Homo sapiens: one gene and its partner. The protein of the gene in region 1 purifies or fractionates together with the protein of each later gene. This does not show direct contact. Each region holds a gene or a part of one and is shown on either strand. Other genes may lie near its edges.

Region 1 (7,309 bases):
TTTTTATAGTTAATACTAAAGAAACAATTTTCCATAGCTGTTGGTGTTCTGTTAGGAGTTGGCTGAAAAGAATATTTACCCAAATCTTAAAGAAACAATATTAATTGCTCATCCTAAATTGAAATTACTAATACGTCTGAAAATTTGAATGATTGGTCTGAGTTTCTCCTTGATTTACAGAAGTCATTACTGATAACAAAATCTCATTTCTTGTGTGTTGATATGCCCTGCTTCCAGTAGGTGGTGGTAAAACTATATTTGTTAGAATCTGAATTGATTTAACCAAAAAGATCACCCAAACTGTAGAAATTAACGGTGGCAGTTGAATTCAATCTAATTTAAATTATCTTCTCTTACCAATCCATGTTTATAGTAATTTTTATAATAGTGTAACCAATAACTAGTTTTCCAGTTTATATAGATTTATATGGGTTTTTGTAGGTACATAATAGCAATCTATTTCAATGTTTATATTTTAGTTTATTCGACTTGAATCAACATTTAAGGACCCCCGCACTGCTGAAGAAAGAAAAAGAAAATCAGTGGTAAATATATTAATAGTGTGCTTCAGAATATTTATTGTAAAGCGCCATGTATCAGGAAAAGTGCCATATTAGAAAGTAGGTCAGATTAGATTTATTTTCAGGTTTTCGTTAGGTTTTATTTTAAGTAGAAATAAGTGTTTGCATATAGGAAAGTTAGTTTTCACTTGTGTTGATTCTTCTGTTTTTAGGATGCCATTGGAGGAGAATCTATGCCTATTCCAACTATTGATACATCACGCAAAAAGGTAACAAGATAGTCTTGTTCATAGGTACAGTACATAGGTAAAAACTCATAGGTAATCTACAAGTACAAAAGGCTTATTAAGAGCCTAGCACTGGGAAAAAGTAAGATTTTGTCCCTGTCCCCAAGGACTAGCAGTGTAGTTGGGGTTGGAGATAGCAAGTATATAGTTCTGAATGTATGTACCTCAAAAGTCTAAAAAAGAGGCAGTAGTTTAAGACAACTTTATTATCTATTTAGATTATGTTCACCCTTTGTTTTTTATCTTTAAAGAAGCAGTTGGATGCTCAGCACATTAATTTCTTACCAAGCACCTGGAGGTATATCTCTGTTGTGTACTATTGCTTACTGCCAAAACATAGGTTTGATAATTAGGAACCATATGTATTAATATTTTAGAGGAACCAAATGTAGTGGTATATATAGTAAGTACCTTTAAAACATGAGCTAAACGCCCCTAAATTGTAATTTAAATGTTTATTATTTGAAGAATTACTTTTATAACTAAAAATGTGTGTAGTATTAAGTGTGGTATGCTAAAAAGCAAGTACTCAAAAACCAGCCTTGTGTAAATAGAGAAAAACCTTCTCTGAGAGTTTATAATGAACAGAATGGCTTATTTATAATAATGATAAATAATTATAAATATATATGATGATAATTATAAATTATAATTTATAATAAAACAGAATGGCCATTAAATAGTAAAGTGCTTTTCATCAACTGTTACCCTGCCAGGTTCTCCAGGATGTAGTAGCTATTCTAAAGCAAAATAGTATACTCACAGGCTATTAGTTGTAGATTTTGAGCCTTTAACATAAGATTAAGTTACAAAAAATATGAACGTATAATTATGTGTCATGGTGGAAGAAAAAATTTTGAGATGGATATTGAAGTACAAAAGAGTGAAATGACATATCTGGATTTTTTAATATATCCAGTCTAAAGGGAAAGTGGGTACACCAAACAATTGCAGCAAAATTGTAATAATGTCTGAAACTTGGTTTTGGCATTTAAGTCCTTATTGCCCTGGTGTCTACTTCTTTGTATATCTGAAATTGCTCATAATTGTTTTAATGCATATGGATATGATACAGATACTGGCTTAGCCAAGGTAAAACAAGAGGAGAATTAAGCAGTCATCTCTTGACAAGAAACTATCCCCATTACAGAAGTCTAGATTTTGCCTTCCTTTTTTTTTTTTTTTTTTTTTTTTTTGGACATGGAGGCTCGCTCTGTAGCCCAGGTTGGAGTGCAATGGCGCGATCTTTTTGTATTTGTAGTGGCTAATTTTTGTATTTGTAGTGGAAAAGGGTTTCACCATATTGGCCAGGCTGCTCTTGAACTCCTGACCTCAAGTGATTCGCCCGCCTTGGCCTCCCAAAGTTCTGGGATTACAGGCGTGAACCACCATGCCCGGCCCTAGATTTTGCCTTCTTTATGTAATAATCTTTAATGCCCTCAGAATCCCTCAAACCGATGTCCCTGAATTTCATAACCATCAAAGTTATCTAGCCTAAGTACAAAGTTCAGTTTTCCTGAGAACTTAAGTATCTCACAGATTGAGTCAGTGGTCTTCTTCATGAATGTATTACAGAAACAAATTGAGGGACATAACTCTCAGATATTAAATTTTTCTCTACTGCACACACTCATTTTTCACTTCACACCCCAAGAGCTTCCTGTTTAGTCACCATGAACTTCCTTTTTTTTTTCTTTGCTTGACCTTAAGGACTGTGTTCTTTATGCATTTCTTGATCCAGGCATGGCAGTTCCTCTTTTCCTGTACATATTCACACTCCTGCCACTTCTACCCTTTCTCTTATCCCTCTGCTTTTCACCTCTGACTGTAAAAAGAAGTAGCAGTTCCGAAAGCAAGAGTTCCCTATGAACACGGAAGGAAATATTCATTGCATACTTGAGTGTTTAGGAGCTAGAGGGTTTGGGAGAAAAACTCCCCAAGTTTTGTGACTGACTTTCTAGCTGGGCCTTTATAATATATATGATGTGCTTTTCCTTTTTTGTTTCCTCTTTCTTTCTAATAGAGACTACCCAGTAAAGAACTACCAGATTCATCATCTCCAGTTCCAGCAAACAACATCCGTGTCATCAAAAATTCCATTCGACTGACCCTTAATCGGTAAAAGCAGTGCCTCCTCACTTAAGTGAACAAGCAATCATTTAGTGGCATAGATGCAGCCACTTGTTTTTTAAATAGAAGTGGCTGTCATACGTGAAATAAGGTGAAAGTGACAGCCTTCAGTCTAATAACCTTGAAGTGGTTTTTGAACTGTCAAACTTTGACCTGTAGATGCTGTAGCATTCTCTCACTGATTGCTACATACACTTCTCTGAGGATCACCTGCTGTCAAATTGCCATCTACAGTATTACAGCTTTGCATTTGGGGGTTTTACTGCCTTAACTTTCAATGCTTGTTATGGGAACCAGTTCTTAGCCACTTGGACACTGATAACAAGTCCTGAACTCCTTTTTTGTTTTGTTTTTTGTGTTTTTCTTTTTTTGTCTTATGTTGTAATCATTGTATAGAGCTAAAAAAATTGAAAACAAACAAAAAAATTGTCTTGTATTTTCCAAATGTTAATACATTTACTTTAGCATTGAAGCCACTTTGAAACCTGAGATAAATGAATGTGAGGTATCTTTTCTGCTTTCCTCATTTGTGTAGATGTACTGTCTGTTCTGTTGATTTAAATTATTTTTTTCCAGATTGGCACATGAAATATTTAAACTTTTTTGTGTGCCTTTCTGTCCAAATGTTGCATAGTTACCAGGGAAGATTAGTCCAGTGATTACATAAGAGTTGGGCACCATAAATTCTCTATATTTTGCCTCCCATGGAGGCCTTTGAAATGCATCTTTATTAAAAATCAAAATATAACCAGGATACTGAAAGTCAGTATATGAATGGTAAAATTGTTACATATCCTATTTCATGCCATTCTTGTTAGTTGACTGGTATTTTTTACTGAGGAGCAACTCATTCCAGCATCAACAATAAGATAACCTTTAAGTATGGCACACTTGTATTTTTGAGGTGTAAAATTAACTTGGCATGATAATTCCTGATCATTATTTACCCCACAACTTCAAATAGTTTCTTCACGGACTAGGCATGCAGAAATAAGCAGTGGATTTTATTGAAACCTAAAGGCATTTTGAATGACATTGTTACCAACCATTAATTGGCTCAGGACCTTTGTAATTTTTATTTAACTATATGAGTTGTCTTTTTTTACGCTGCTTTTTTCAATGCATTTCTTAATATTTTTTAAGTTTCATGAATGCATGCTCAGTTTATTAAAATCCATAACCATGTAATTCTTGTAATATGTTGATTCAGTGTTTTGTAAATGAAGTCGTATGTATTTTCAGAGTATTTTTGTATGTACTGTAAGATACCATCTTTTCAAAGAGAAACGTTTAAAACCTTTATTGTCTCTCCTTAGTCTAATTTTTTAAATATGGATTATGCTTGAATTACTATATTTAAAATGAAAATGTATAGATTACACAGCCAGGAATGCTAGTATCTACCACCTTCTTTAGATTTCACTCAGCATTTAGTAGGTCCAGTAGGAAAAACCCAAAATGGTACATTGAGTAGTGTGGGGAAGACACCTCGTGTATTATAGGACTCACGGGATGCCATCTAGCAAGTGGAGAAATAGCAGTCCATTTTCTCTTGCAAGCCCTTTACCATTGAGTTGAAATTCTTGAATTGCCAGAGAGCCGTATCCTCCAGGTCCCACTCCTGTTCATTGCCCCTTAGGTCTCCAAAATGTAAATTCTAATGTTTACCTTGTACCATGGAAAACATGAAAAGAGTCTTAGAAGTAAAGAACAACAAGGAAAAAAATGTTTGTTCTATTATTCCCTTTTTATATAGCAGCAAAAGATAAGAATAAAATCACATAACCAAGTTGAAGCTTCCTTGGCAAAGCTGTTGTCTTAGCTGACTCTTTCCCTTTATTCAGATGTTTTGGGATTGTTCTACAAATAGTCTATTTGAGCAAAAATGAATGATTATGAAAGAACCGAAGAATTATCACCTGACTTCAACTTTTGAAAGCTTTAGTAAGGAATTTGATTAAATTTTATATACTGGATGTGTATGCATTTCTGCATTTCATATCTTTTGCTTTTAAATCAGCCTTCAAAGTATCTTTAGGAATTCCTTCTGTATCCATGTTTACCCCATTATGTAAATAGATCTTTGGAGTGACTAGTGGAGTTTTTCTTTAATAAGGAAGCAACAAGTCTAACCTTGTACTATAGGATAGGCATTTATTTTAGATTAAGGAGCCCATTCAACATGTCAATGAGTCAACATTAGAGTCCTCAAAGATAGCATTCTTCAACCTGTTTGGTAACTGAGGAGTTGATAAAATACTTTTGAGATGGTGGGGTTTGTCAGAAATAAAATATTTTCTATCCTGACCAGTAGGTAGAACTTTGAGTACATTTCGTTAACTTGGTGGGAAGCTTCCATTGTACTAGTTCCAAGTAAAAAAGGAGAAAGTATGATCTGGGATTTTGTGTTATGATGAGAGGCACTAAGTACATGTGTTTGTTTTGTTTTGTTTTGTTTTGTTTTGTTTTGTTTGAGACAGAGTTTTGCTCTTGTTGCCCAGGCTGGAGTGCAGTAGCCCAATCTCGGCTCACTGCAACCTTCACCTCCCGAGTTCAAGCTATTCTCTTGCCTCAGCCTCCCAAGTAGCTGGGATTACAGGCACCCACCACCTCGCCCAGCTAATTTTTGTATTTTTAGTACAGACAGCGTTTCACCATGTTGGCCAGGCTGGTCTCGAACTTGTGACCTCAGGTGATCCACCTGCCTCGGCGTCCCAAAGTGCTGGGATTACAGGCGTGAACCACCGCACCCGGCCGTGTTTGTTTTCAAGTGTGAAAAAATACCTAGAAGTATATTTTATGAAGTCAAATAATCTGTTCTTCAGTATATAGACACATGTTCATTTTCACAAGGGCATTACATTTTAATTTGCTCATTTTTCAGTAGCTCTGGAGAATATGTATGAAAGGAAAACAATTACCTGCTAGCTTAAACCTTAGGGACTTAACCAATTCAAGATAGAGGTACATGGCTTAAAACTTTGTAAAACTGGGACAGGAGAATTATTATTTTTTTATTTTTTATTTTTTTATGAAGACAAGAGTTTCACTCTGTCACCCAGTCTGGAGCACAGTGGCATGATCTCACCTCACTGCAACCTCTGCCTCCCGGGTTCAAGTGATTCTCTTGCCTCAGCCTCCCAAGTAGCTGGAATTACAGGCCTGTGCCATGCCCAGCTAATTTTCGTATTTTCAGTAGAAATGGGATTTCACCATGTTGGCCAGGGTGGTCTTGAACTCCTCACCTCAAGTGATCTGGCTGCTTCGGCCACCCTAAGTGCTGGGATTACAGGCATAAGCTACTGTGCCCAGCCAGGAGAATGAATTTTAAAAATCTATGTTAGTGTTTAAAATGAGTGCTTTGTTTTAAAGCAGCAATTTAGTAGCATTATTAAAATGCTTACTTCACTATAGTAGCAATTAGGTAAAGATGGGCAATATCAAAATGGGCTAAACTTATTTTCCACTATGTTCCACACCTTTGAAATAGGAATTCCTAACTTGAGAATCATGAACCCTTAGGGAATCCTTTATAATTGTGTATAAGAAGTTCTAGTTTACATGCATTTTTCTTGGGGAAAGTGCATAGTTTAGATCAGCTTCTCGAAGTGGCAAAAGTATGGGAGTTAGGGTTAGGAACCACCAGGATTGAATAATCCTGGAATATTATATAATTTTCTACTTTTGATTTTGCTGTGGTATATTTCTGAAAATGTGCTGTGGCTCCTAACTAGTAAAATGGGCTGGTGAGGGACTCTGGAATTCTGAATTTCTAAGTTTATAACCTAAAATGAAACTGTAAAGTCCTCGGTATTTAGAAAAATGCTTAATCTCAGATTTACAGATGGCCTCATGATAACTTAGATTCGTTAACAGGGTCAAACTTTAGTTCAACAAATTTCAACCCAATATTATCACAGTACAATAGCTTAGAATGATCATTAGAAATGGTAGAAAATAGAATAAATCATTAAAGATCCCAAAATGTTGAGTTCTGTAGCATGAAAACTCTCTTGCTCCTCCATGTTTGTAGTTCAGGCCAGAACAAACTAAACAGACCAATAAATATAAAAGTGATAGTTTAGGGAAAAAAAAAAACTTTGTATAAATAAAATTGTATGTGTGTTCAAATAACTACCTATTAAATCATCCAAAGCTTAGAATTTAAATTGGTCATAGTAGCAAATAGTGCAGATGATGGAAGAAAACCAGTCTCAATAATGGTTTTTTTTTTCCAATTGCATAAGGTCACGTCATCCCCCAAATTGTCTATTTTTTCTTTTCTTTTTTTTTAAGATGGAGTCTCGCTCCGTCACCCAGGCTGGAATGCAGTGGCGCAATCTTGGCTCATTGCAACCTCCACCTCCCAGG
Region 2 (3,059 bases), on another chromosome or scaffold:
AATGTTCAGATTCTGAAACTTCAAGCCAAGATGTTTACATATAATATCCCAACATGCCTGGCCACCTGGAAAATGTAATGCAACAATCATGTACATGTTTTTATAGCTATTGCTTTTATTTATAAGGTTTGCTCCAGACAGGTAAATCTGAAATGACATCTATATATATATATATATATATATTTTTTTTTTTTTTTTTCCTGGACAGATTGCTATTCTTAATTTAGATTTGTTTTTAGCATTTACTGAGGTTTAATGAGAGTGAGTACTCATTGAATAGCCTCTAAAAGCAAAAAGCGTAGACTTTTAATTTTCTTTGAAGGACAACATTTAGGTGACAGTACTGTTATCAAACAAATCTGCTACAGACATTTTAAGACCACCTCTTGAAATGGTGGTGTGTCACCTGTTGTAGTCTGATTTCTTCTTTCTTTTAAAGGTGTTAGTGCTAGGTATTTTTGACTAGTAATTATGAGGTGTTTTTTTTTTGTTGTTGTTGTTGTTTTTTTTTTCTCCTGTGAACGTTATTTATGTTCAAAACACTGGTCTGCTTTTTTCTTGTAAAGTTGATAAAAATTGTTGAATTTTTCTTTTCACTATAGGTTTTCCTCCTTGGAAGTTTAGCCTGTTAACTTTCAGGAAGTTTTGTACTCAGATTCCCACAGTCAGTATTCTGCCAGTGGTGGTGTTTCATTTTGTTCAAAGATATATAAATTTTTCTTTTCCTTTTTCTATATTTCTTTTTTTTTTTTTTTCTCTTAGAGCCATTGCTGCTGAGATTGTTCTAAAGGGACAAAGAGAGGTAAGCCATGGTTGAATCTCAGATGGGTCACTTTTAAAAAGTTTTTCTGTCTCTTTTGTTGACTTCTCAATTTAAAAGAATTAAAGCACAGAAGTTAACATTTCATGCACACTAAGAACCAAGTGGGGAAACAAAAGTAGTTAACATTTTAAGAGTACCAAATATTCGGAAACTCCAAAACTCAGCATAACCATTTTGTCTCAGATGTTATTGTGAATTACCATTCTTTAAACAGATGGAATTATGAAGGTGTTTTTCATTATATTTTCTGATGGAATTGTGTGTATATCTATCTTACAGGTCCACCGTTTATATCAGAGAGCCTTACAGAAGTTACCTCTTTGTGCATCACTGTGGAAAGATGTAATGCTTTTTATCTTTTATTTTATCTCGATGTTTTCCTGTAAATTTTCTGCATGTGCCATATCCATTGATGTGGTAATGCTCAAACTCTAGCTAAGTCTTACTTCTATGCTTCCCTGTCTTTTACAGCAACTCTTGTTTGAAGCATCAGAAGGAGGTAAAACTGATAACCTGAGAAAACTAGTTTCCAAGTGCCAAGAGATTGGAGTCAGCCTAAATGAGCTCTTAAATTTAAACAGTAACAAAACAGAAAGCAAGAATCACTGAACACTGGGTGCAGTCAGTTCTAAGTCCTTATAATAATTGCCAAAATTATTTGAATGATTCTTCAAGATTAGGCTGATCCCTGGCTAAGGTCTGTGTAAGGCAGACAAGCGTTATTGATCATATCAAGTTCCCTACAATATCCTGTCCTCAAAACCGGAAGCAATGAACATGATCCTCTTCGGTTGGATAAATGAACTTCCTGTTTGGCCTGCTTCTAGGCCCTGCCAGATTCTCATAACATCATATACGTAAGTATAGTTCCTCAAAGTGACTGACATTTATTTTAATTTTGCTTTGTTTTTTTTTATTTTCTCCCCCATTCCTTTATTTTGTGTTATTCCTGACTCACTTGACACTCTCTGATGCCTGAGAGATTCCTGTTTGGGATTTAATATCCAGGGCTGTGTTTACAGTAAAAAAAGCAGGCAGTCCCTTTTAGTTTTTCCTTTTTAAATTTTTTTGAGATTCTTCATTTCAGGATTTAAAACTATAGCAGTCCATCTTAAGGAAAGTGTAACTGCCATGGCCACAAGTCTGCTAGTTGCACTTGAATGCTCTATCAGGGTTGTTTATTACCCTTTCTACGTTCTGGACTCCTTGCCGAGACTGTTTAACTTGAAGATTAAAGAAACTATTGCAAATGCCAGTGCATCAGAACCTAAGAGTGGTCAAATATTATGTGCAATTTTTTTGTAAAGAAATTTTAATTTATAATAAAGTTTAACAGTTTAAAGAACAGTTAATATTTGAACTGCTTTGTATTGAAATACTACTTTGTAGTATTGAAATTGTTTATATACTTTTTTAATATAAGTTAACTTTCTAAAAACTCTTGCTGTCTTTATTCACTTTTCACACTGGTGGGAAAGGGTTGAAGTCGGAGATACGGATATTCACCATAACTTATAGCAATACTTTTTTATCTTGAAACTGCTTTCCCATTAAAAAAAAAAAAATTAATGACTTTTTAATTCATGAGAAGATGGATACTGTTGTGAGGACAGTGAACAGAGAGGTTTGCACTACCATTAAATTCCTTGTTCTCAAATTCTCAGTGTTTAGAAAGTGCCTCCCAACCGTAGTTTGAATGATTTGCCTAGTGACATGCCATCTTATGTTGAATATCAGTGTGATTGAATGCAAAGGAGACCTTGCTTTTTATTTTGTTTTCAGTTTATATTTGGTTGTTTTAACCTTGGCAGGAAAAATGTTAATGACACAACGCACACTGGCACAAATCTGATCTTAGAACTACATGTGCTTGAACTGTTAGAGGCAGAGCAGCAACCCCATGAAATACTAGGAAACTTGTACATGTTTACATTTGTATAATGCTCACTAGAAATAGAACCATATTTTGAGTCCCTATTCTGTACCTACCAGACAGGGCGATTTGGCTAGTAAGTGCTGTTTGATGGGGCCAAGAATGGAATCCATTTGTCTAGTGTCTTTCATTTAATCAAAAAGAAAGCTGGAGGCTTACTGGTTTTTCCCTAAAACCAAAAAAAATGTGGGTGGAAGATAGTAATCCCAGAGGAATAGATATCTACTCACTGTATGCATTTAACTTTATATAACTTTGAAAGCTTTTCCTCCTCTGATTTTTTGAAAACAGTTGTTGGGTACT

Evidence for each region.
Region 2: the proteins of PAPOLG (region 1) and ZFC3H1 purify together in Homo sapiens (affinity purification with mass spectrometry; 2 studies listed by BioGRID and IntAct, with this or other methods). This does not show direct contact.

What each region holds. Positions count from the first base shown.
Region 1 is NC_000002.12:60,794,231-60,801,539, forward strand, and holds part of PAPOLG (poly(A) polymerase gamma), read left to right. Parts: intron 1-479; coding exon 480-545; intron 546-733; coding exon 734-790; intron 791-2,831; coding exon 2,832-2,930; 3' UTR 2,931-7,309. UniProt on the Homo sapiens protein: Responsible for the post-transcriptional adenylation of the 3'-terminal of mRNA precursors and several small RNAs including signal recognition particle (SRP) RNA, nuclear 7SK RNA, U2 small nuclear RNA, and ribosomal 5S RNA.
Region 2 is NC_000012.12:71,608,801-71,611,859, reverse strand, and holds the end of ZFC3H1 (zinc finger C3H1 domain-containing protein), read left to right. Parts: coding exon 1-74; intron 75-762; coding exon 763-802; intron 803-1,102; coding exon 1,103-1,165; intron 1,166-1,294; coding exon 1,295-1,432; 3' UTR 1,433-2,261; downstream 2,262-3,059. UniProt on the Homo sapiens protein: Subunit of the trimeric poly(A) tail exosome targeting (PAXT) complex, a complex that directs a subset of long and polyadenylated poly(A) RNAs for exosomal degradation. The RNA exosome is fundamental for the degradation of RNA in eukaryotic nuclei.